7 linked regions of the Homo sapiens genome follow. The gene in region 6 interacts genetically with the main gene of each other region. Each region holds a gene or a part of one and is shown on either strand. Other genes may lie near its edges.

Region 1 (3,500 bases), on a different chromosome or scaffold from region 6:
TCAGAAGTATAATTGACAGCCTTTTAACTTGGGATTGGCATCTGAAGTGGGAGGCAGTTTAGTGGGACCTCCTGTGGAATCTCCAACCTGTGGAATCTCCAGGTAGATAGTATCAGAAGCAAGTTGTAGGATACCCAGCTGGTGTCCACTGGGGAATTGCTTGGTGTTTGTGGAAAATATCCCCCACACATCTGGTGTCAGAAGTGTTCTGTACAGTATTGAGTGACTATGTAAGAGGGTAGGAAAAACACTTTGTTTTTTCCTAGCTCATTGGCATCAGATTGTGGGGAGATAAATTTAATGTTTTTTTGTTTTTGTTTTTGTTTTTTTTTGTCCAGGCTAGAGTGCAGTGGCATGGTCGTGCTCACTGCAGCCTCAACCTTGTGGCTCAAGCAATCCTCCCACCCACCTCAGCCTCCGGAGTAGCTGCCACCATAGGCACATGCCACCACGCCCAGCTATTTTTTAAAAAAATTTTAGTAGAGACTGATTCTCACTATGTTCTGTTGCCTAGGCTGGTCTTGAACTCCTGGGCTCAAGTAGTCCTCCTGCTTTGGCTCCCCAAAGTGCTGGGATTATAGGCTTGACCCAATTTGCCTGGCAATTTAGTGTTTTAGAAGTATTAAATCTATAAGCCAGGATTTGATCAGTGATGAATTATGTGTGGATAGAAAGAGAGAGAGATTTGTTGACTGAGCCCTAGAGTAGATGCTGGGATCTTCTGAACTTCCTATGAATTGACTCTCATTTCCTCGATGTTGTGAGCCTCATCTGTCCTCTTGTACACATTGGAGGAATTGTACCTTTCTGAACAGAATTTGTGGTATGTTTTAGGACTCAGTAGTCTTTGAGGATGTGGCTGTGGACTTTACCCAGGAGGAATGGGCTTTGCTGGATCTTGCTCAGAGAAACCTCTACAGAGATGTGATGCTGGAAAACTTCCAGAACCTGGCCTCACTAGGTAAGAATGGCAAGATTCTTTCATGTAGTTGTTTAGAAAGTTATTTTATCTCACTAAATTGACTTTATTCTAGGATTTGGGCTGAGGAATGGGAAGACATTGGTAAGTAAGACAGATATGGTCACTGACCCCAAGGAACTTACAGTCTAGTGGCTTTGCTATGAAAATAAACACCTGGGCCGGGCGCAGTGCTCATGCCTGTAATCCCAGCATTTTGGGAGGCTAAGGCGGGTGGATCACCTGAGGTCAGGAGTTCGATACCAGCCTGACCAACATGGAGAAACCCCGTCTCTACTAAAAACACAAAATTAGCCAGGCGTGGTGGTGCATGCTTGTAATCCCAGCTACTTGGGAGGCTGAGGCAGGAGAATGGCTTGAACCCAGGAGGTGGAGGTTACGGTGAGCCAAGATCGCTCCATTGCACTCCAGCCTGGGCAACAAGAGTGAAACTCCATCTCAAAAAAAAAAAAAAGAAAAAAGAAAATAAACATCTGTATATTGAACTGATGCTTTTTTTCGTGGTTGAAAGCCTTGAGGTTTATTAAGTATCGAAAGTGTGGGTATAAACCTCAGCAATCACTATAGGACACAGGGAGGAGGTTTGTAGTTTGAACATTTTGAGGATTTTACTGCTATCTGTGTCCTTTACCCAAAGACTACCAGAACACACTTATAGTTAAACAAGTTGGGTTTATTTTGCAGTGCAGCAAGCAAGAATACATGCCTCTTACATGTCCTAGTAAGATGGTGTTAGAAAAGACCTATTACAGGATTTGTGCTTCAGTTGAGTGATTTGGGGATGGGTCTATGGAAGCAGGCTGTATTAGTTTCCTAGACCTTCTGTAGCAGAGTATCACACACTGGTGGCTAAAAACAACGGAAATTTTTTCCTTCACAGCATTTCTGGAGGCTGGGTATCTGAAATCAAGGGATCAGCAGGGCCATGTTCTCTCTGAAGGCTCTGGGGGAAAGACTCCCTTTTCTCTTCCTGGCTTCTGGTGATTGCTGGCAATCATTGGCATTCCTTGACTTACAGATGCATCATTCCATTCTCTGCCTTCTCCTTCTTGCCTGTGTGTCTAAGTCTCTGTCTCCTTATAAGGACACCAGTCATTGGATTTAGGGCCCATCCTAATCCAGTATAACCTTGTCTTGATTATATCTGTAAAGACCCTATTTCTAAATAAGGTAACATTTTGAGGTTCTGGGTGGACTTCTCTCTCTCTCTCTCTCTCTCTCTTTTTTTTTTGTAGGCTTTATTATTATTTTTAGAGCAATTTTAGGTTCACAGCTGAATTGAGTGGAAGGTACAGAGATTTCCCGTATAACCTCTGGCTCCCACATGCATAGCCTCCTCTAATAACAACATCCCCCACCAGAGTGGTAAATTTGTTATAACTGATGAAGCTACATTGACACGTCATCATTGCCCAGAGTCCATCATTTACATTAGGGTTCACTCTTGGTATTGTACATTCTATGAGTTTGGAAGAATATATAATGACATGTATCCACCATTATAATATCATACAGAATAGTTTCACTGCTGTAAAAATCCTGTGTGCTCTATCAATTCATCCCTCCTTCCCTCCCTCTTAAATCTTGGCAACTACTGATCTTTCTGTCTCCATAATGATGTTGCCTTCTGCAAAATGTCATATAGTTGGAATCATGCAGTATGTAGCCTTTTCAGATTGGCTTCTTTCACTTAGCAATATACATTTAAGATTCCTCCATGTCTTTTCATAGCTTGAGAGCTCATTTCTTTGTACCTCTGACTAATATTCTATTGTCTGGATGTACCACGGTTTATCCATTCACCTACTGAAGGACTTCTTGGTTGCTTACACGTTTTGGCAGTTACAAATAAAGCTACTATGAACATTGGTGTGCAGGTTTTTATGTGGACTTAAGTTTTCAACTCCTTTGGGTAAAAGGAGTGCAATTCAGTTGCTGGATTTTATGGTAAGAGGATGTTTAATTTTATAAGAAACTGCCAGCCGGGCGCGGTGGCTCATGCCTGTAATCCTAGTACTTTGGGAGGCCGAGGCGGGTGGATCACGAGGTCAGGAGATCGAGACCATCCTGGCTAACAGGGTGAAACTCCATCTGTACTAAAAATACAAAAAATTAGCCGGGTGTGTTGGCGGGCACCTGTAGTCCCAGCTACTCGGGAGGCTGAGGCAGGAGAATGGTGTGAACCTGGGAGGCAGAGCTTGCAGTGAGCTGAGATCACACCACTGCACTCCAGCCTGGGCGACAGAGCGAGCATTCCAGCCAGCAATGAATGAGAGTTCCTGTTGCTCCTCATCCTCACCAGCATTTGTTGTTGTGAATGTTCAGGATTTTGGCCATTCTAACAGGTGTGTAGTGGTGCCTTGTTTTAATTTGCATTTCCCTGATGACTTATGATGTTGAGCATCTTTTCATATGCTTATTTGCCATCTGTATATGTTCTTTGGTGAGGTGTCTGTAAAGGTCTTTGGCTCATTTTTTTGTCTTTTTTTTTTTTAAACATTGTTGAGTTTTAAGAGTTCTT
Region 2 (3,936 bases), on a different chromosome or scaffold from region 6:
AGTTATATAATATACACATATAATTTATGTATTATATATAAGTATGTATAACATCATATGTAATATATAAATATAGTACATTTCACACTGGTAGGACGTAATTCCAAACCACATATTTGTTTAACCAATTGAATTACTTGGATTTAGTTTCTATTTCCCTCTTTATTTCCTTCTGAAAATATTATACAAATAACATCAGTTTACAAAAAATAAAATCTGATATAGCTTTTTTATCATACACTAGGCTAGACTAAATGCATTCTGTGGATTGTTTACCTAGGACCAGATGGTATATTATAAAGTTGTATACAAATGAACAAGGACTGCCTGAAATGGATTGATAGCTGAGCACATTTGGCTGGAGCGTCTATTTTAGAAGGAAAACCTGAGAATCATATTATTTGAGTGTGATTCATGTGTTAATAGTATTTCAAGACAAGCCACTTAAAATATGTCCTGAGTGGTGATGCTGGAAATGATCTTTTCTTCAGTGTTTTCAAGTGTCTTCATTTAAGTGTACACATTTTGCCTACCTATAACACGTATCTACACATTGTGATTAAGAGAGCAAACTCTGAAATCAGACCTAGATTAAAGATCTTAATCTCTGCCAGTTGATTGGGCAAGTGACTTAATCATTCGACAGTAATTTCTGCATTTGAAAATGCCTATCTCAAGGGTAATGAGAATTACACTGGTTCACCAAAAGAATTACACTGACTAATATAAAACGTGCCAAGCATGTATGTGTCACATGAAGGCTCATTAAAAAGCGGATATTATTGTTAATCTTCCAATAACTACTATTTCCAACAACAGGCTGAAGGGGCTCAGAAACGTTTGTTGAGTAAAAACACAAGGAAACAGTAGCACAGATTTCCTGCTCTCCTTTACGATCGATGACCTGTCTAAGGACTGTGATCTCTGTTCACTACAGATTGTCACCTGCATTAATCTACTGTCACCCATTAACCTATCAAATAAGGCAGTCTAAAAACTCCAGGCGTCCCTTTCCGTAAGGACCCGGACTGTTGAACTGGAAAGCTAAAATTCAAGGCGTGACAATTGCCCTTTGTCCCACATTCCTCCACCGGTCGCCTGCTTATTTAAATGGTGCGTCCCCTCGGGTACCACTTGAACAAAACCTGCCCAGAGCGCTCCCTGTGTAGATTCGCTGGAAGCAGCTGGAGGCTCCAGTTCTCATCTGCTCAGGTGTCCCCGGCGCCTTGGCGAACTCGGCCACTCCAGTTCCTCACGTGGTGAGCACTCAGGGCAGCGGGTCGATTTTCCGAGGTCCCATACCTGGGTTTGAGGGGCGCGGCTCGCAGCGGCGGGTGCAGGGGCGACTGCCAGCCCTCACCCCGCCTCGGGGTGCGTTCGGAGGCCGACACCTGGAGGACGCCTCCAGTCCCCGCGGGACGCCACGCCTGCGCGCCAGGGATCCGGGATAAGAAGTGCGCGCCGGGCTCCGGCTGCGCGCCGCGGGGCCACCAGTTTGCGCGCAGGGCTCAGGCGACCGTGCGGCCATGGACACGCCACGGGGCATCGGCACCTTCGTGGTGTGGGACTACGTGGTGTTCGCGGGCATGCTGGTCATCTCGGCCGCCATCGGCATCTACTACGCCTTCGCTGGGGGCGGCCAGCAGACCTCCAAGGACTTCCTGATGGGCGGCCGCAGAATGACCGCAGTGCCCGTGGCGCTGTCCCTCACCGCTAGCTTCATGTCAGCCGTCACTGTCCTGGGCACCCCCTCCGAGGTCTACCGTTTTGGGGCCATTTTTAGCATCTTTGCCTTCACCTACTTCTTTGTGGTGGTCATCAGCGCGGAGGTCTTCCTCCCGGTGTTCTACAAACTGGGAATTACCAGCACCTACGAGGTAAGGGGCAGGGTGGGCTGGGACCATGCAGGGCGCGGGGGAAGGGGACTCTGCAGACCTCTGGAGGCGTTTTCTTGGGGGCAGACTGTCACTGCCACATCGAAATCTCTCCCCGTCCATCGTCATCATCACCCTCCCTTCACTCCTCCCCGTCCCCCGATCTTCACCTGGCATCTTTCCCTTCTACTGAGAGGCGTCCTCTAAGGGTGAAAAAATTCTTGGGATTTACTCTCCTGGGCTTAGTGAAAAAAAGAGGCTTCCAAAGTGAACGGATTGCAACAGTAGTGCTCGCTATGGTCCTTTCTACCTTTAGCATCTTTGATTCCCAGGCAAGGGGAAAGATTTTTGGGGAAGGTAAGTTCTTCAGGTCTCAGGCCCTGCTTCTTGAAAGGAATACTCTTGTTCCAGGTCCTCAGCCCCATTCACTCTTCCAAGATAGTTGGTAAAGAATTTGTACTCCCCTTCCTTCCCCTTCCACACCCACCCCCTTTCCACTGAAACAGGCACCCAAGTGGCTAAGGTGTACCAGTACCTGTATTTCGGACCAGATTCTACCACTTACTAGCTGGGTGACCTTGGGTGACTTACCCAACCTTTTGTGCCTATTCCTCAAAAATAAAATAATATCACCTACCTCATCCAGTTGGGAGGATTAAATGAGATGATGCAAGGTGTAGCATTTAGAATAGAGTTTGACACAGAGTAAGTGCCAGATAGGTATTGGCCATAATTACTGTGGTGGTGCTAGTTGTGATGGTGGTAGTTATCTTGGGATCAGTAGGAAAATTAGGCAGCAAGGTTCTCAAACAGCTCTGCCTTCTCTATGGAAAGACAATTAAGGAAAACTGTCTTTCCTCTATTGCACAGGTCCCCTGGCTATAGGTTTTCTCAAGTTGTCTGCAAGAAAGGGCTTTGAAAAGATGATGCACGTTTAGTTTAAAGAGCTGTTGAATGGGAGGTGGGGGCGGGATCAAAGCTCAGGGGAGTGGCGGGGCCCAGTTCAGTGCCTTCAGTGGTCTCCCTCACCCAGCACTGGTCCTTGAGCTACATGGGACAAGCCTGCAGAAGTTTCCTCTCTATTAGGCCATTACCCAGAGGACTCCAATCCTGAGATTCTGGCAGGTGGTTTCCTAGTGAGGCTGGTTCAACTGGTGCTGGGGACAGGGCCTTAACGGCACAACAAACATTGGTGACACACTCTGCCTGGGCTCTAGTGACATCTTCCAGGGCGAGGCACCCCTGGGCAGCATTGCCTTCCATTCACTCTGGGGCTGTGTTTGGGAGAGCTCAATAATTATCCCAGAAGTGAGCAGGATGCAGTTTCTCAGGTTTGCTCAGAAGTGACAAACTGGCGAAATTCCCCAGACCAAATTCACTTCTCAGTCATTTTTTTTTTTTACTTCTCCTTATAGTGAGAAGAAATAAAATATAATTTCAGACTATGACTTCTTTCGAGAACTCAAAAGGCTGGTAACACTGGGCCCATGCTCCCTGTGGCCACAGGAACTCAAGTTTATAGCTATTGCTCTCACTCTCTATTAAACTTCTATATTGAAGTCTTATCTTTGTGTTTTCATGGTTACTGTTTTTTTGGTAGAGAAATTTTTATCTGCATTTATGTCTTTATCAAAAAATGTGAAAGGCAAAATGGACAGGGGTAAAGGGATCTCTTGTTTCCAGGGAGATGTAAGAAAACATATATCTTAGTGGGTGGGAGGAATATTCCAACATGTTAATATGTGAACACCTGGCCACTGTCACTTATGTATGTTACCTGATGGAACCTGGAGGCATCTGAGTCTGTGAGCTGTGATCTATAGCTAACCAATTCCCAAACTTGGAAAGGGTTTGAAGAATCTGGCAGGAGGACTTCAGTCCCCACACATGAATGCTGCTCTCATAACCACTGACCCATGCCTCTTCGGGGCTACAACATTAACTCAAGCAGAAACAGATTTCCCTCATGCTTGCAGTGGTAGAGGCTAAGTTAGCAGGGGTTCCAGCTAAAAATGTCAAAAAGCAAAAGTTCATTGAATGCTGAACACATGCCAGGCACTGG
Region 3 (3,500 bases), on a different chromosome or scaffold from region 6:
ACAAATTGTCCTCCCTGAGTACCCTGTGTTTCTTTTTTTCTGGGTACTTTGATCACTTTCTTTCTTTTTGGCATTCTGCAGTTTCACTATGACATGTTTAGGTGTCAGTTTTTGTTGATTCTGCTTGAGACTTGTTATATGTCCTTTGAATATTTGAGTTTTTCAATCATTCTGGAAGATTCTCAGCTATTAGCTTTTCAGATATTGCCTGACTCTCATTCTTTTTTCCTGTTCTTCTAGAACTGGCAGCCAGTGCTGGACTTCTGACTCTCTTCGTTGTGTCTTTCGGTTTCTGTTTACTGTTTCCCATCTCACACTGTCTGTGCTGAATTCTGGGGATGCCCTGAGGCCTTCCTGTTTGCTCATTTTCCAGTTCACCAGTTTTCTCTTTGGCCATGTCTAATTGGAATTTTGTTCACATTTCAGTGGCTGTTTTGTAAGTTCTATTTCATTCTATTTCAAATAGGAATTTGAAAATGGACATTTCCTTTTTCAAGTAGAAATGTCAGGCTGTTTCTGTGTCTTATTTGCTCATCTTTTTGACTGCTCCTTTTATACTGTGTATCAGGTTAGTCATACTTACCCCACCGTCTCTATCTGATGGTTTGGTTAGCTTCAGTTCTTGGGAGTATCATTCGCCTGTCTTCTGTCTGCTGGTCTTCACTCATGGTGGATCATTTCCTTGTGGGTTTTGCAACAGAACTTCTATGGGGATTGGTGTGGCCTCAATGGAGGGTGTAAGTCCAAATGTCCTTCTGTTTTGGCCAAGCACTCCAGGGTAAGCAGTTGGAGGCCATTAGTTAGTGCGGAGGGGATGGTTCCTGAATTGAGAGGTGGTTTCATTTGAATTCATTTGAACTCCAGGCACATTGTTACAAATTTTCAGAGGAGGCTTTTTGTTCATTGGGCATAGAGCCCAGGCTAAGCAAGGAAAGCTTCCTGGTCTTTGCCCTGCCTGCCTCTGGGGCTATCAAAGGATCACCTGGCTGTCTGCTTCTCTTTGCTCCCAGAAGTTTCCCTTGCTTTCCGTCAAGCTTGGCTCTGCTCGAAATAGTGTCGTAGTTTACCCAGTTTGGTGGGAAGAGGGTTTTCGATTTATAAACAGAAGTCTGATTCTCTCCCTGTTCCTGTTTCCACCTCGGGGCTTCCATGCCCTCAACTGTCTGTGTCATCCTCTGGGTGACTCACCAAGAGGAAGGATCTAATTCGGGGACTGCACATCAAGGGCAGCCTTGATGCTGGCGTAGGTGCCCAGCCCAGTCAGCGCACCTAGCCCCGGGCACCGAGACAGCCCGCGAGACAGCACCTGCAGCCGCTTCGCTCCATGGCTGCCATTGGTCACATCGGGCTGCTCCCTGCCCTGAAGGCTTAGGACTTTTCTGAGCCTCTGCTGTGCCAGGCTTTGTGGGCTCCTGGCCCTGCTCTGGTGGTCCTCAGAGCCAGCAGCCTTTGAAGGCTGTGAAGCATTCCCTTTCCCCTGGCTTGATAGGCTCTGTCCTGTGGCCGTCTGTTTTTTTTTGGAGGGGGAGCTTTTGAGATGGAGTCTCACTCTGTCTCCCAGGCTGGAGTGCAGTGGCACGATCTTGGCTCACTGCAACCTCCATCTCCCGGGTTCAAGTGATTCTCCTGCCTCAGCCTCCCAAGTAGCTGGGACTACAGGTACACGCCACCATGCCTGGCTAATTTTTGTGTTTTTAGTAGAGATGGGGTTTCGCCATGTTGGTCAGGCTGGTCTTGAACTCCTGACCTCAAGTGATCCACCTGCCTCGGCCTCCCAAAGTGCTGGGATTATAGGTGTGAGCCACTGTGCCTGGTCCTGTGGCCTTCTTATTTCCCCAAATGCCAGGCCTGCTCTGTCTTGGGGCCTGTGCCAGGAGCACTCTTTCCTCTGCTGCCCCATGGCGCAGCCCCCCTAGGCAAGGCCCGGCCTGCCCACCGCCACCTTTCCTGTCTCCTTCCCTGCCCCACTGCTCTCCCAAGCACTCGACACCCCGTCAGTGGCGCTTTTCTCTCTCCCTGCCATGGACTGCAAGCTCCATGGGGTCAGGGATTTTTGTCTGTTTTGTCCCTGCTGTGTCCCCTGCATCGGGTGGCTAGTGAGGGCTCCAGGTGCTTCAAGGAGGTGGAGCGCACTGGGTGGGAAGGCAGGCTCTTACCGGTTGGAAGATTTAGATAAGCTTTGCTGGGCTGGTGTGCAAGGCAGGTGGGCTCAGGAGATGGGCAGGGCCTGTGGCTCCCACTCCAGCCCTGAGGCCTTGCTCTGTCCAGCTCTGGGGCCCTGGCCTTATTCACCCAAGGCTCCAAGAGAACCTGCAGAAGGCAGCTGGTTCTACGCCAGGATGCCCTGGGCACAAAGACTTGCAGACCCTTCCCTTTGTCCACAGCGACTGTCCAGCTCTCAGAACACCTGGGGAGGAGGGCTGTGTCCTTGAGAGCACCGTGGGAAGGAAGGTCCAAGGCCTTCGACCTTTAGGATTCACATCCCCGCCCCGCCAGCCCAATCTAGTTCCCTGGTTTCCCGGGCCAGGCCCCTTTCCACCCTGCATGGCCCTGAGCGGATACTGCGTTCCGTGTCTTCCCCCAGCCCCCAGCCAATGATCCCTGAGGCTTCCCCCTCAGGATCACACCCACCCCTGGATACAGTCCTCGGGTCCTTCACAGGACATTCCCACCACTTCAGCCACACCCCAGCACCCTCAGAGGCGGCCTTCGCCCTTGCTCCCCACCTCTGCTCCTGTGGGGAATCTAAGGATCAAGAAACTGAGAGTCAAGGCCATTGATGAGGGTCAGGGGTGCTGCCACGGGGCCTAGAGTGTGACAGAAAAGCAAATTAAGACAGGAGCAGCTCCTGGGAGAAGCAGACACCAAACAATACGGCTGCTGGCCCAGAGGTCAAAAACCATGGCCTAGAGGGGGCGGTCAGGAAGTGGGACATTAGGCCGGGCGTGGTGGCCCATGCCTGCAATCCCAGCATCTTTGGAGGCCAAGGCAAGTGGATCACCTGAGTTCAGGAGTTTGAGACCAGCCTGGCCAACATGGTGAGACTTCGTCTCTACTAAAAATACAAAAAAAATTCGCTGGGCTTGGTGGCGGGTGCCTGTAATCCCAGCTACTCGGGAGGCTGAGGCACAAGAATCCCTTGAACCTGGGGAGGCAGAGGTTGCAGTGAGCCAAGATCACACCACTGCACTCCAGCCTGGGCAACAGAGCAAGACTCCATCTCAAAAAAAAGAAAAGAAAAAAAAAAGAAAGTTGGCGTTTCAAAGCCAAACAGCTCTGGGCGTTGGATGACAAAGTTCAGATGTGCCCCAGGAGGGGCGACATCAGTGGTGCAGGACAGAGGGCCGGTGGAAGGAGCTGGCTGTACGTAGAAACAAAACCAGATGCCTACTGGTGCATTTAAAAATCAACGTTATTGAGACGTAATTAACATACTATACAATTCTTCCTTTTCCATGTACAGTTTAAATTCATTCACAGAGTTGTGCAGCCATCATCAC
Region 4 (4,109 bases), on a different chromosome or scaffold from region 6:
CACCAGCCTTCTGAATAAATATCTTGTCCTAAATTTTGTTCTAAATCATTGGAACCAAAGCAACGTCACAACTCAAGTCCAATTTCTCGGCCTACCATTTTCTACAGATGGCATTTATTCAGCAAGGGAATGTTGTAGGTATAGTAATTTATCTTTTTTCCATGAAACATGTGTTATCTTCTTGCTCTATTTTGAAGAGATATTATGATAAATGATGCCACTATTTAAAACTTGTAAAGCTTCTTGAGGTTCTCAGAAAAAAGTACAAGGTATAGGTCAAAAAGAGTAATTTTGTCTCTCACAAAAGAATTTTCTGTTCAAAAAATGCTGTTAACTTGAAAAAGTCATATCTCCAAAAGAACGTTCTAATAGGTGGGATAATCATCATCATATTTCCAGCTATAATCCATCATATTTCCAGGTGTATCCCTTCCCTTAAAAGTAAAAAAGGAGAAAATCACTTTGCTGTGTGGAAGTGCTTTGTGTGTTTTATAAAATCCACATAAAATGTTCGTGGTTCAAGGAGTGGCTGCCGCATTTCTAAGGCAAATAAGCTTATCCCTGAAGAAGCTTGAAGATCTGACTCTCAAGAATCTTTGTGTTCTGGATGAAAAAGGAATCATTATTTTTTAACTCCCCTGCTCAAGTCAGTGACTTCCACTGGCACCCAATCCATTGGTTATAAGTACCCATGAATTGCCTTGCCAATTATAGGCAGGATAACCTAGGAGGACCAACCAAAACCAAACTCCTGGTAAGCTTTATTAGCCTTTTCTACAATGTGTCTCAGTTTCTCTTTCACACCTTGGAGTGGAAGACAATCTCTACTCACACTGTTGTGGTATGTGTCTGTCTGTCTCAGATGTGTGTATAAGGTGTATTTCTCAGCTCGGTATCTGAAGTAATTTCTTTTTCTTTTCTTTTTTTTAAAGACTGCTGTCTTAAGGCTTAAAAGTAATTTAAGGTTTTGTTTTTTGTTATTTTAAGAGTTGCAGTTTCTTTGGAGACAACAAAGTACTTTTTTTCCAAAGATGAAAAAGGCATATTCAGACTTTCTATGTTATGTTCCATAATTGTTTTGCTTATCACTGTATAACATTCTCATTATCATGGGCTACTTTAAGCTAATCAGTTGCATTTTGGGGTCCTCATTTAGAAGTCAATCTGGAAAAAAGATGGCTGTAAAACTTAGATAAACCAGTATGCTATTTCTCCTTCCTTGTCTGCCTTTACAGATGTTTCCTCTTTCTCTCTCTCTTCCCTGACTATCTCTCTCAATGATCATTGACAGCTCCCGCATCCCCTCTTTCACTCAGCTTCACTCCACCATGACCAGAGCACCTCTCCTGCTACTATGTGTTGCCCTGGTGCTGCTTGGGCATGTGAATGGAGCCACAGTAAGAAATGAGGACAAATGGAAGCCACTCAACAACCCCAGAAACAGAGATCTGGTAAGAACACACTTGGGGCCTGGGTTTCAGGATAGAACTAATGCCTCTTTGGATTTACGCACACAGCATTCTGTTTTCCAGAACGTAGTGGAAAGGGGGCTACCAAGGGTTGAGAAAATTCTCCAACAGGATTGGACCAGAGTTTTACTACCCTAGTGGTTGGCAACCTATTGTTTCTCTGGCCAGTTTACATTTGTTTCTGTAAAGAGAAACAAATTTATATTTAGAAACAATCTTATACACACATAGTACAATTCATTTGTAACTGATCTTATATACACATTGACTTTGTAGCCTTGATTTCTAATACATATAAAAAATAAAGAGTGTAACAGGGAATTGCTCGTGCATAGCTTAGATTGAACTGATGATAAAACAAGTTATCATATAACTAGAGATTGCCAAGCTCAGCTGCAAAAATTGAAAGTTGACCCTGCATGGGTATCAATTTACTGGACATATTTTCAACATATAGTTATCTATAAAATAGAATTCAAAAGATCAGTAAACATTCTCTTTAAAAAAAATGCCAAATACAATAAACATGTTGACATGACTATTTTGAAATATGGTTTTTCTAAAGTGAATGATGGGAAATATAACAACATAGGATTAAAATAAACTGAGATAAGAGACCAGCAGGATTTGTTTTCTGGTCACAGCTGCTGACGAAAACAGGATCTGGTCCAGACAGGATAAAGTGAAAACACTGGGTGAAACCAGCAGATGGCAACAAAAGTGGTCCCGACCTGCTCTCATTGCTCTTAGGATATGATCCTCCCCTCAGTGCCATGACAGTTTACAAATGTCATGGCAATTACCTGGAAGCTACCACTCCTTTCCATGGCAATGACCCAAAAGTTACCACCTCTTTCCTAGAAAGCTCTAAATAACTCCCTTCTGTTTGCATTAACCCATCCCTTAATTTGCATATATTCAAAAGTGGATAAAAACACAGTTGATAAGAGCCCATATGTTGTCAGCCCTAGGTGCACTACCTATGAATTAGCCTTGTTCTGGCAGGAGCAGTACCTTTCAATAAAAGATTGTTACCACAACCAGCCTGCCCTTAAATTCTTTTCTGGGCAAAGCCAAGAACCCTCCTGTGCTAAGCTCCAGTTTTGGGATTTGCCTGTCCTGCATCAAAGCAAGTAGCACTTCGCACATCTTCTGTGTTCATTTCCTAATGGAAATCTGAAAAGAAACTATTGCAGAAGGCAACAACAGAGATCTCATATTAAGGAAGAGGAGATACTGAGCTGCTTATTATGGAGTTCATTTTCACCTTTGACCTTAGTACTCAGAGATAGTTCACAATGAATCTTTCCACTGTGGTGCCGCTCCATAGTCTTCCTTCAATTTTCAGTAAGAATGGTGAATTATTTTGGTTAGGGTTGAAATGTCAGAAAGAAGGTACAGAGGAGGGGAGGAGAAGTAGCTGAAGCATGTACTTGTATTTCTAGATTTTGTATTTCCTGCCTCTTAGATTAGCCTTAAAGTCAATTCAGGGGAAAAATAGAGGGAAGAAAAACACCTTTATTTTTGGTGTTTCATTTATATCTGGCATTGACCATTTTCTTTCTCTCTTTAGTTTTTCAGAAGGCTTCAGGCATATTTTAAGGGCAGAGGTCTTGATCTTGGAACATTTCCAAATCCTTTCCCCACGAATGAAAATCCTAGACCTCTCTCTTTCCAGTCAGAACTTACTGCTTCTGCATCTGCAGATTATGAAGAGCAGAAAAACTCCTTTCACAATTATCTCAAAGGCTGAAAGTTTCTTCTGAGCTCAGGTAAAAGTTGGCCCTTTATTCTGGATCTGTCCAAACATACAAGTCAGCCATAAAGTAGATATTTTGAAAGTATTTATTTGAAAACATAATTTTATTTCCTCATAGAAATAAATGCTCAGTTCTGCTTATACTCATTACTATTAAGTATTTGGATTTGGTTCAGGTATTTTACAGTCTTGTTTTAAAAAGAAATGACAGTTTTTATTTTTTAAGCATAGTTATCCAGGCAGAGACATATTAAAATAATAGAATTATCTCTTAATAGGATTATTAAATTAATAACATGGCCACACTCTTACCTGTATCTTTTTCCAGACCAACTGATATAGCTAAGTTATGTGGAAAATCTACATAAAGAAATATGTCAAATTGAGCTGTTGGATTAGATGGGAATTAAAAGTTGAAAGTATGGTTCTTTGGGGGATAAAGTATTATGCATATATTTGAGCTTGAACTTCCTCACCTATAGGAAGAAAAGGTTGACTATTAGTAAGGATGGCATTTTTCTCATAGAAAAAAATTAAAAATTTATTAAGATTTGAATTTCATTACTTTTTTTGTTGTTGTTGAGGTAGAGTCTCACTGTGTCGCCCAGGCTGGAGTGCAATGGTGTGATCTTGGCTCACTGCACCCTCCACCTCCTGGGTTCAAAGGATTCTTCTGCCTCAGCCTCCTGAGTAGCTGGGATTACAGGTGCCTGCCACCACACTCAGATAATTTTTGTATTTTTTTTTTTTAGTAGAGACAGGGTTTCACCATATTGGCCAGGCTGGTCTCGAACTCCTGACCTCGTGATCCACCTGCCTCAGCCTCCCAAAGTGCTGGGATTACAGGCATGAGCCACCACACCCAGCGAATTTCATTACTC
Region 5 (3,386 bases), about 130 Mb from region 6:
ATCAATCCAAACGTCACATCATACCCTACAAATATACAGAAAATTATTTTTCAATGAATAAATAAATAAATTTGAAAAAAATTAAATGAGGAATTCAAATATAGAGACTCTCCAAGGGCCCACTGAGCCCCAAAGGATTTGGATCAAATATGGTGATATTATGGAAATATGTAGTAATATCTTAAAAATGTGTAAGATATAGTCTCTTTTTTTTTTTTTAAGAGAAAGGGGTCTCACTATGTTTTTAGGCTGGTATCGAACTCCTGGTCTCCAGTGATCCTCCCACCTCAGCCTCTCAAATAGCTAGAAATATAGGCATGTACCACCATGCTGGCTTAAGATGCATTCTTTGACACAGCAATTCTATTTCTATAAGTTTATCCATATAGGTAAGAGAACATATATACAAGATAATCACTGTAACTTTACTTATTACTGCAAAAGTTTAAAAATAACCAAATTGTAATAATTTTATAATATTTTATCAGTACAAAAAATAAGTGATGGCATATACAAACCCTGGGATAGTATAAGGCTATTAAAATTATAATAGCATTCCATGTATTTTGATATACAAAGTGCCAATGTTACAGGTGAAAAAAGCGAAGTGCAGAATACTATGTGTAACTGTTAATAGTGATGGTTTGCTGGGTCAGAACTGAAGGCCTGGGGGTAGAAATGAGAGCTCATGACTTCTACCTTTTGAATGTTGTTCCTTGTGCATGATTTACAATTTTCTAAAACTAAAAAAAAAATCTCAGAAAGGGGCTGTACGCACCTAAATTACTTTGATATTCCCCAAAGTGGAGAGAAGTACCCGCTACACATTTTATGTGATGCATTCAGATCACACCAACTCCTTGAACTAAATCCGAATTTTTATTTTAATCTGATAAACTTGGCCTACTATTTTACTGAACTCATTTCCCCTATAGCCTGATAAGGTCATTGACCTCTCCATACTGGCACCAGCGGGAGACTACTCACCTCGAGATCTCAAAAGCCTCCTACATGAGGTTAGTAATATCCCTGAATCCTGCAATGAATTAACTCTCTACTCCACTGAGTCCCAGGTCTGCCCCCAGAGAGTCATCCAGAGAGTACCAGGGACCATCTTCAGAAAACAAGAGGCATTTGATCCCCAAACTTCTTGAATGAAAGCGCTGTTGTTTTTCTTTTTTGAATATATAAAAGTAAATACTCAAGCAGATGGGAAACAGAACAGGATAGTAATACCCTTATCATCATTAACACCTTGGATCAAGAAGAGGCATTAAGCATACAGACTCACGCTTTGATGAAAGCTGGGAGAAAGAGGAGCATCAAAGGGATCTTGAGAACAAAGGCAGTCCTTCCCCTCCCAATCACATGCCCACCTCCTCTCACTGCAGCTTCTGTCTCAGGTCTTCTCCCAGCAGAGCTATAAATCCAGGCTGACTCCTCACTCCCCACATATCCACTCCTGCTCTCCCTCCTGCAGGTGACCCCAGCCATGAGGACCATCGCCATCCTTGCTGCCATTCTCCTGGTGGCCCTGCAGGCCCAGGCTGAGTCACTCCAGGAAAGAGCTGATGAGGCTACAACCCAGAAGCAGTCTGGGGAAGACAACCAGGACCTTGCTATCTCCTTTGCAGGAAATGGACTCTCTGCTCTTAGAACCTCAGGTAGGAGACATCAATCTTGCACATCTGCAAAATCTAGAAAAAAAGGATTGGAGAAAGGATCTGGAGTCAAGTGTGGAAAGGTCTACCTCACTTGAGTGACTTTACTTAATCTTCCTGGACCTTGATTTTCTCATCTATAAATTAATCAGTGAGAACCAAATAAATCTAAAAGATTTTCTTTTTTCTAAGACTTTCAGTTCCAAGATATTTCTGTGAAATTTGCTACTTTTAAGATAGAAAGAGCTACACTGACTAGTTCTTTGTAGATCTAAATGGGCAGACTTAGTTATATAGAGAGTGTTTTACTTTGTCCATTGGAAAAGCTTTTAGAACCTAGAGAGGAACCTATAGGTGTGTTTTGATGTAGGCTAATAGGCTTGATTAAATCTTTCTACAATACATCCTTAGATCAAAACATCATATTGTGTCTCATACATATACACAATTATTGTTTGTCAATTAAAACAAGTAAATATGTAAAATGTTAAAAAAAAAAAAAAAAAAAAAAAAAGGAGAGACAGAGAATGAAGAATTTGAATTTGGAAAGTCTTCAAAGACTCCTTGAGCACCAAAGTATTTGGTCCATGACATTAGCATGCACAATGCGGCATTTCAGAAACTGATTCAGGTGCTTTAGGGAGCCTTGTTAGGACCTGGAAATCACACATGGAGGTCAAGATTAGGCGTGTGGATGAAGCAGAATGAAGAGTAGGTAACCCTGAGGTTGAGAGGTATATTGTTGGACCAGGGAGCAGGTAATAAATACATCCTGGATAGACTCACATGGGGAAAAAAACTATGATCTTGCATGACTAACACATAGCTAGTAAGATTTCTTGTCACTTACGACAAAGACATGAATTTTCTCCATCCTAACATGACTGATACAGTGTCTCTTATTTAGACTATCTCAGTTAGTCTGGCTGTGCTTGTCCTTTTTCCCACCTCCCTCGCTGTGCCTGACCCTCTCTTCTTTCCACAGGTTCTCAGGCAAGAGCCACCTGCTATTGCCGAACCGGCCGTTGTGCTACCCGTGAGTCCCTCTCCGGGGTGTGTGAAATCAGTGGCCGCCTCTACAGACTCTGCTGTCGCTGAGCTTCCTAGATAGAAACCAAAGCAGTGCAAGATTCAGTTCAAGGTCCTGAAAAAAGAAAAACATTTTACTCTGTGTACCTTGTGTCTTTCTAAATTTCTCTCTCCAAAATAAAGTTCAAGCATTAAACTTAGTGTGTTTGACCTTTTTAATTTTCTTTTCTTTTTCCTTTTTTTTCTTTTGCTTTGTTATATGGTGGTTTGTATGGTTCCTTTGTATTGAGAATTCTGATCTACATTAAGTTAACTGGTCTTTGCATTCCAATGATGCACAATTTGAGCATCATAGAGCAATAACAAAATAACAAAAATGAATATAATTGGGTTTTTTATTGTTGTTGTTTGAGACAGTGTCTAACTTAGCCACCCAAGCTGGAGTACAGCGGTGCAATCTCGGCTCACTGCAGCCTTGACCTCCTGTGCTCAAATGATCCTCCCACCTCAGCCTCTTGAGTAGCTGGGACTACAGGCATGTGCCACCACACCCTACTAATGGTTTGTATTTTTTTGTAGAGACAGGGTTTCACCATATTGCCCAGGTTGGTCTCGAACCCCTGAGCTTAAGTGATCTGCTCTCCTCAGCCCCCCAAAGTGCTAGGATTACATGCTTGAGCCACCATTCCTGACAGG
Region 6 (3,500 bases):
ACGGGTGCTTCCTTCCACCCAGGAGCCTGAGCAGAGGGTGGAGGGTCCTGGCAGCTACCTACGGCAGCTGAGAGCTGCGCTCTTTAGCCGAGCGGGATCAGGGCTACGTGGACACAGCCCGTGCCAGTGTGGGTGGGGCACGAGCTGTGGGTTCCGATGGCCCAGTAGGCGTTCACCTGGCAGAGAGTGTGCGCGTGTCTCCCCTCCTTGGGGCGCCTCAGGTCAGGACCCTGAGAACCTCACTTATCCTTTGAGCTGCGCCAAGGCTGTTGTACAAAAGACAGTTCAGAAAATAAGGACAGGCTGTTCCTCCCAGCCAAGGGTGTGGCCCTAAGGACCCCTAGGTGGGGCATCGCTTCCCGCCAGGCACGTGCCACTCAGTCTTGGGCTGCTTTAGTGGCAGCCTCCTGGTTTGGAAGCGGAACTGAGGGTCAGGGATGACCACATGGCTCAGGGCTCAGCTGGGGTCCTGAGAGTGGGCCCTCAGGTTTACCTTCCTCCTGGAGGGGAACTGGGGGCCATTGCCCAGTGCACCCCCACTTCCCCTTAGGTGCGTGGGCCACCCCTCCCTCCTGCAGCCCCCGTTCATCTACCCAGGATAGGTGCATGGGCCACCCCTCCCTCCTGCAGCCCCCGTTCATCTACCTGGGGAAGGTGCGTGGGCCACCCCTCCCTCCTGCAGCCCCCGTTCATCTACCCGGGGTAGGTGCGTGGGCCACCCCTCCCTCCTGCAGCCCCCGTTCATCTACCCAGTGGGGATGTCCCCTGGCTCCTCTCCTGGCATCTTCCCGGGATGTAGGGGTGCTCCCATGCCCCCCGGCTCCTCTCCTGGTGTCTTCCCCAGATGTAGGGGTGCCCTCATGTCAGGGCTTATGCTTCTAGAAGGAGTGGAAATGCAGCACAGTCATTGCTGTTGCCTGCCAAGGGCCACCCTGGCTGGGGACAGATGGGGCTGCCTCCCCTCTCCCACCCTGTCCTGGCCACCTGCCCCCGCCAACCCTGCCACTGGCTCAGAGGAAGCAGGCCTAACCTGATGTGTAACCCCCACCCCTGCCGTGACTGTAACCCCGTGCCATGTGAAGGTGGGGCTCCTTGGCAGTGCCTGGTGATTGCGGTACAGCCAGAACCGGCCCCATTATCTGGGCTGTGGGTGCCATTGGTCAGGACCGTGATGGACTCATACGTAAAACTTGATGCATTTTAACTCCCTTCATCCTAGAGGATTGAGACCTCTGGCGGGTAAGTGTTCATATTACCGTCCTGCCCTAGAGCCAGGGAAGGACCCTAGGGGAGAAGTGACGTGCCAGGGTCACTGCTGGGAGGAGAGCAGGAATTTGAACGCTGGCCATGCCTCCTTTTTGGGGAAAGGTCAGTAAATGGGCAGGGGAGGGTGCTGGTCATTTGGGTGATGGTGCCAGTGGGGTGAGCAGCTCCAGGTCATCAGGTGGTATGGAATCTGGCCCCGGGCAGCCCGTCCAGCATTCCTCTCTCACCGAGCCCACAGCCCTGGAGCACCTACTGTGTGCCTGCTCTGGCCCACTGGGAACAGGACAGTCCCGAGCCCTGCCCCGAGGAGCTGGCGCCAAGTGGAGCAGCTGCACCACAGGCACACGGGGGACAAAGGGCACCGCTGATGATTTGGCCAGGAAGAGATGAGGTGGGGATGGGGGCTACAGGGTGGGGAGACGGTGGCCTCGGGAAGGGCTAGCTTGGCCACGCCAGCTTGGTCATGTCACCTTCTGAGTCTCAGTGTTCCCTTCTCACGTGGGACAAGACCACGCATAACCCGAGGGGCTGCATGTGTGGAGCCGACAAGCTGACGTGCGGGTCCTGAGTGCACTGAGCCCGCTGGGGTTCCAGACACAGTGGATGAACGATCCAGGGAAGGAAACAGCCTGGGCTGTGCTCTCTGGGACCTGCCCTTGAGCCAGGTACTCCTGTGGGAGGGTAGCCGGGCTGGCTGGGGGCCTGGAGCCCACAGCCTCTCCTCCCTTGCTGTTTTCCCGGCCAGGGAGGAAGCCAGGCTGGAAGACCCCAGAGGGCTAGGGGGATGAACACAGGTTGATCTGTGTTGAATTTGGCTCTAGCCACCTCCTCAGGGCCAGAGCGGCTCCTGGAGCCGGAGTGAGAGCTGTGTTACACGCAGGGAAGCCGGGGCTCGGGGAAGGTGGCTGCCAGGGTGTGCAGGGCTGTGCCAACCTCATCCTGGTGGGTCCCTGTGACAACAGGACAGGCTGCCTGCCCATTGTACAATGAGAGGCTGATGCTCTGTCACTTCATGAGGTCACACAGGCTCCAGGCAGTGGGGGGCTCTCTGAAGGAGGTCCCAGTGACCTGAATGGAGCCCCCGGGTGGGCTGAAACTTCTGCCTGTAAGGCCTGTCCTGGGTTGGGGTTGGGTGGGAGAGGGCAGGAGTCCTGCTGGGAAGGGCCTCTGCCATGCCCAGCTCCTACCACAAGTACAGAACAATGACAACTCCGCCACCTGGCTGCCCCACGCTGGGCACATGCTCCCCGCTGGCCTCAGTTGGGAGTCCAGTGAGTCAGGAGGTGAAGGTGGGGTGCACGTCCCCTGCAGACCCTCACAAGGCAGGTGGCGGGGCGGGTATTGGTCATGAGAACCCTGCCTTGGGGCCTGAGTGCCTCGGTGGCTGTGGAGCCTGGTTTCGACCTCTTTGGGACCAGTGTTCTTGTCCATAAAAGGCAGTGATCTTTCTGGATAGTTCAGAGAGATTCTGTTATCTTTGCCCATCAGAGCTGGAAGGGAGTTGAACAAAATGTTTTGCAGAAATTGGACCTGAGTTGGGCATTGCTCCTCCTGCTGCCCCTGGTTCTGAGGGCTTGGCACCACTAGCCCGCTCTCTGTCCAGGGTCGGCCCGGCTCCTGCCTTTATCATGTGTGAGCCTCGCTGTGTGTGGCTCAGTCCTGGACGGGCCGAGACCTGGATGCAGGACCCTGGACAGTCAGCGCAGGCGGAGCAGGGAGGGAGGCGTCTGCCTGAGGCCTGCTTGGAGGTGCCCAGGCTGGAGCCCTTGGCCCTGGAAGATGTGGTCAGGGCCCAGTGGTGTTGGGATGGCCAAGAAGAGGGCCCCTGTGCCTTCTGCCCAGGGCTTGGCCTAGCCAGTGCTCAGGGTTTATTTGCTGGATGAGGGGTGGAGTGGGCCAGTGGGGCCCAGGTCTCCTGCTAGGTGACCCTCAGAGGTGGGCATAACATCCCTTGGAGTCTCTGCTCTGCACTTGCCAATAAGAGGCTGGACCATTTGAGTGGTTATAAGTTGGGAAGCACTCCCTGATTGCTTGGTTCTGCTTGAGGCACAGCCTCCAACTCCCAGAGATTCCAGCACCCCTGCAGGAGCCAGCGTTGCTGATGTGGGCAGACGGGCGTCTGGGAACACCCCAGACTCAGCATACTAGGGTTCAAGTCCCTGACTCCCATCCTGGGGCATGGAGTGGCAGGAACCAGGGAATGTTCTAGAGTGAGGTGGTGAGGTGGAGCAGGG
Region 7 (3,500 bases), on a different chromosome or scaffold from region 6:
TGATGGAAAGGAAAGGTGAGGTGGCTCATAGGTGGACAGAGCTTAGGAGAGAAAGGCTCTACATTTGGGGACAGTGAAAAGAAATTCATTACTCCTACTGAGAAAGGTCACGTATGTTAATTGACTAGGCAGGGGAGACATTTGTTTTTAATCATATTCATTTGACTATTTGATTTTTTAAAATAAATTTTGAAATGCAATTTTTATTTCTTAAGAGTATGTTTAAGTATATCTTTAAATGCTGTACTATAACATAAACAAAAGCTTCCTATTCCATCCATCCTGGTTCCCTGTCCCCATTCCTGAAAGGCAACCACTTTGAACATTTTTGTCTCAATATTCTGGTATTCACCTCCTTTTTTCTAAATAACATTCTTACACTGCTAATGCTTCATTTCTCAGTTTTAGATATTTCCTGTTGATTTTTGATAATGAAGTTAAGGATTTAGCTCTCTTTCACTACCTAACCCCTTCCGTTTCATCTCCACCCCAACACACTCTTCTCCTTGCCCTTCTTTCTAATATGGTATTATTTTTTGGAGGTTGAAGGTTGACCAGATGTCAGCATCTGTAAGCATTTTCTTTTGGGCTAGTCAGTTTCCCCAGCAAGAAGTCCTAGATTTTGCTTGAGAAGTACAAGCCAGAACTCCTGCTTTTTGGGAGACGAAGGAAGTGAGCATGTTGGACACCTCATCTTGCAATATGAGAACTTTAATTCTTTTCTCTCTGCATTGCTTCAACCCCACCTTTATCTGCATCTGGTATGCCTGAAATTCAGAGCTTGTCTCATTCAGTTTATCTAGAGAAATAATCTTTAATTTTTTTCTGTTGCCAATGTGAGGGAAATGTGACTATGCCATGTTGGGTGAAAGAAAACATCAGGTGGTTTTAACATCTTTTTATGACATCTTACATTCGGTTTTATGTTTTTCAGCCCTACTCCCAAACTCTAGTCCACAGAAGTAATTAGTAGCTCCATTCCTGAACCTTTCTAGGGTCTTGTCATGGCTTCCCCACCCTCCTCCCACCTTCACTTAAGCTTCAGCTTTCTCTGGTTAAGTTAGATACCACTCATTTGTCTGCTCTTTAGCTTCCCACATTTTGTTGACAGCTCTTATCTGTGGAAATCTTCTATATTCTTTGTCCTTATGAGTTTTAGCCTCCTTTTTTCCTTTATTAACATTATGATTGGTTTGGGAGAGAGTGGAAATATTAATAAATGCAGGTATTCAGGCTTTTATTTTTAACCAAAAGGCCCTGAATTTTTTAGGGTAAAAAATAAATCAAGTTTTTTAAAAATGTCATTAGAAACATGACTGTATTGCATCCTATCTTATCAATGTTCCACATTACCTATAGCCAGTCTCTGATGAAGGTTTTTTTCTAAATTATTTTTTTTGAGGGGGAGACAGAGTCTCGCTCTGTCGCCCAGGCTGGAGTGCAGTGGTGTGATCTCGGCTCACTGCAACCTGCACTTTCCGGGTTCAAGCGATTCTCCTGCCTCAGCCTCCCAAGTAGCTGGGACTACAGGCGCACGCCACTACGCCCAGCGAATTTTTGTATTTTTAGTAGAGACAGGGTTTCGCCATATTGGCCAAGCTGGTCTCGAACTCCTGACCTCGTGATCCGCCCGCCTTGGCCTCCCAAAGTGCTGGGATTACAGGCGTGACGACCGCGCCTGGCCCTAAATTTTTTATGGTTAAAAAATAACATTTTAGGCCAGGCGCGGCGTCACGCCTGTAATCCCAGCACTTTGGGAGGCCGAGGCAAATGGATCCCTTGAGGTCAGGAGTTCGAAACCAGCCTGGCCAACATGGTGAAACCCCTTCTCTACTAAAAATACAAAAAAGTTAGCCAGGCATGGTGGTGGATGCCTATAATCCCAGCTACGTGGGAGGCTGAGGCAGGAGAATCGCTTGAACCTGGGAGGCAGAGGTTGCAGTAAGCAGAGATCAGGCCACTGCACTCCAGCCTGGACGGCAGAGTGAGACTCCATCTCAAAAAAAAAAAGAAAAAAAAATTTTAAAGATCATCCCAATCTTTAAATTTTTGGGGTAACTATTATTATGTACTTAAGATAAACTTCCTGTTAGAAATAAAACAGCAAGATTCTAGGGAGATAAAATATTGCCAATAGATTCATTGGGCACTGCATACTTAGCCCTCCATAAATCCCCATCAGACCCCATATGATTAAATTAGCCATCTGTGTCCATTTCAGTGTCTATAGCTAGATGGCAGTTAACATTTCTTATTGCTTCAAGGATCATTCATCTGTAGAGGGTCTTCTAGCCACCTGGTACTGAAGATTTCTATATTCCTTTGTCTGAAACTTTGAAGCAAATCTGTTTCATTTCTCTTCCCTCAGCTTGGTGTTCTCAAGAGTCTGCCCTTTCCGAGGAAGAAGAGGATACAACCAGGCCTCTTGTACGTCTTAAGCATTTATTTGTTTCCTGCATTATTTTGCAGTGCAGTTACGGTGGGTTCTTGTAACCTACCAATGTGTTGGAAAAAATAAATTGATGAAAATAAAAGTGAGAAAAAATACAGATAGAAAATCAGAACCTGGGGAAATTTGAGATATGGCTATGCAGAAGCAGGTACATACAGAATTATTAAAGTTGAGTTCAAATTTAAATATGATCTGGACAGTCAAAGCAAACTGGGACACTTAAGTTTATTCCGTAAGTCCATAAGTTGCACCATTTATGAGGAAAAACTTACAATTATTTAAGTAAAAGGCTTTTAACTGGCACCTTGTTCAAAAAGAAACTCTAAAATATAGTTGGACTTCTGTATCTGTAGATTCTGCATCCATAGATTGAACCAACTGCAAATCAAAAATACTTGAAAAAAAAATGGGTGGTTGTATCTGTACTGAACATGTACAGACTTTTTTCTTGTCGTTTTCTAAACAACATAGTGTAACAACTATTTACATAGAAATCACATTATATTAGGTTTTATAAGTAATCTAGGGACGATTTAAAGTATACGGGAGGACGTACATTGGTTACGTACAAATCCTACACCATTTTATATAAGGGACTTGAGCATCAGTGGATTTTGGTATCCGTGGGGGGTCCTGGAACCAATTCTACATGGTTTCCTAGGGACGACTGTAATTCCTTAATTCTTACAATTTTTAGCTTAGCTTTTAGAAGTTGGTCTTGGCCAAACTTCAAAAATTCAAATTACCTGGAAGAGTAAGTGGAACACATATCTTTCAAATGATCCTACGTATATATTTTCTTCAATTGAGTTTTTAATCCAAGTTGAGCTAAATTATACTAATATTCTATGGCAGAATCTTATAGTTCTGATATCCATAGCTTTTCACATCTTTTTTATGGTCTCAGAAGATATAGTCTTCATCCTCATCTTACAAAATTACGTATTCTCTGCTCTTGATTCTTTTTGTTTCCACCTCTGAAGTCACTCACACACCTATATTTTGAATGTTTTCTGCTTAACTGCCTCTTTTTCTTCAGCTTATGTCT

Evidence for each region.
Region 1: changes in PTP4A3 (region 6) and ZNF699 together harm fitness less than expected from each alone (positive genetic interaction), as found in Homo sapiens cells (one study listed by BioGRID).
Region 2: changes in PTP4A3 (region 6) and SLC5A8 together harm fitness less than expected from each alone (positive genetic interaction), as found in Homo sapiens cells (one study listed by BioGRID).
Region 3: changes in PTP4A3 (region 6) and ABCD1 together harm fitness less than expected from each alone (positive genetic interaction), as found in Homo sapiens cells (one study listed by BioGRID).
Region 4: changes in PTP4A3 (region 6) and C2orf66 together harm fitness less than expected from each alone (positive genetic interaction), as found in Homo sapiens cells (one study listed by BioGRID).
Region 5: changes in PTP4A3 (region 6) and DEFA5 together harm fitness less than expected from each alone (positive genetic interaction), as found in Homo sapiens cells (one study listed by BioGRID).
Region 7: changes in PTP4A3 (region 6) and ZNF568 together harm fitness less than expected from each alone (positive genetic interaction), as found in Homo sapiens cells (one study listed by BioGRID).

What each region holds. Positions count from the first base shown.
Region 1 is NC_000019.10:9,299,839-9,303,338, reverse strand, and holds part of ZNF699 (zinc finger protein 699), read left to right. Parts: intron 1-834; coding exon 835-961; intron 962-3,500. UniProt on the Homo sapiens protein: May be involved in transcriptional regulation.
Region 2 is NC_000012.12:101,207,439-101,211,374, reverse strand, and holds the start of SLC5A8 (sodium-coupled monocarboxylate transporter 1), read left to right. Parts: upstream 1-1,136; 5' UTR 1,137-1,526; coding exon 1,527-1,877; intron 1,878-3,936. UniProt on the Homo sapiens protein: Acts as an electrogenic sodium (Na(+)) and chloride (Cl-)-dependent sodium-coupled solute transporter, including transport of monocarboxylates (short-chain fatty acids including L-lactate, D-lactate, pyruvate, acetate, propionate, valerate and butyrate), mocarboxylate drugs (nicotinate, benzoate, salicylate and 5-aminosalicylate) and ketone bodies (beta-D-hydroxybutyrate, acetoacetate and alpha-ketoisocaproate), with a Na(+):substrate stoichiometry of between 4:1 and 2:1.
Region 3 is NC_000023.11:153,731,356-153,734,855, forward strand, and holds part of ABCD1 (ATP-binding cassette sub-family D member 1), read left to right. Parts: intron 1-3,496; exon of another isoform or gene 3,497-3,500. UniProt on the Homo sapiens protein: ATP-dependent transporter of the ATP-binding cassette (ABC) family involved in the transport of very long chain fatty acid (VLCFA)-CoA from the cytosol to the peroxisome lumen.
Region 4 is NC_000002.12:196,806,556-196,810,664, reverse strand, and holds the start of C2orf66 (uncharacterized protein C2orf66 precursor), read left to right. Parts: upstream 1-1,309; 5' UTR 1,310-1,316; coding exon of another isoform or gene 1,317-1,328; coding exon 1,329-1,451; intron 1,452-3,042; coding exon 3,043-3,222; 3' UTR 3,223-3,241; intron 3,242-4,109.
Region 5 is NC_000008.11:7,054,804-7,058,189, reverse strand, and holds DEFA5 (defensin alpha 5 preproprotein), read left to right. Parts: upstream 1-1,450; 5' UTR 1,451-1,492; coding exon 1,493-1,664; intron 1,665-2,646; coding exon 2,647-2,759; 3' UTR 2,760-2,886; downstream 2,887-3,386. UniProt on the Homo sapiens protein: Host-defense peptide that maintains sterility in the urogenital system.
Region 6 is NC_000008.11:141,395,021-141,398,520, forward strand, and holds part of PTP4A3 (protein tyrosine phosphatase type IVA 3), read left to right. Parts: intron 1-3,500. UniProt on the Homo sapiens protein: Protein tyrosine phosphatase which stimulates progression from G1 into S phase during mitosis. Enhances cell proliferation, cell motility and invasive activity, and promotes cancer metastasis.
Region 7 is NC_000019.10:36,922,832-36,926,331, forward strand, and holds part of ZNF568 (zinc finger protein 568), read left to right. Parts: coding exon 1-15; intron 16-2,368; coding exon 2,369-2,427; intron 2,428-3,500. UniProt on the Homo sapiens protein: Has transcriptional repression activity, partially through the recruitment of the corepressor TRIM28 but also has repression activity independently of this interaction.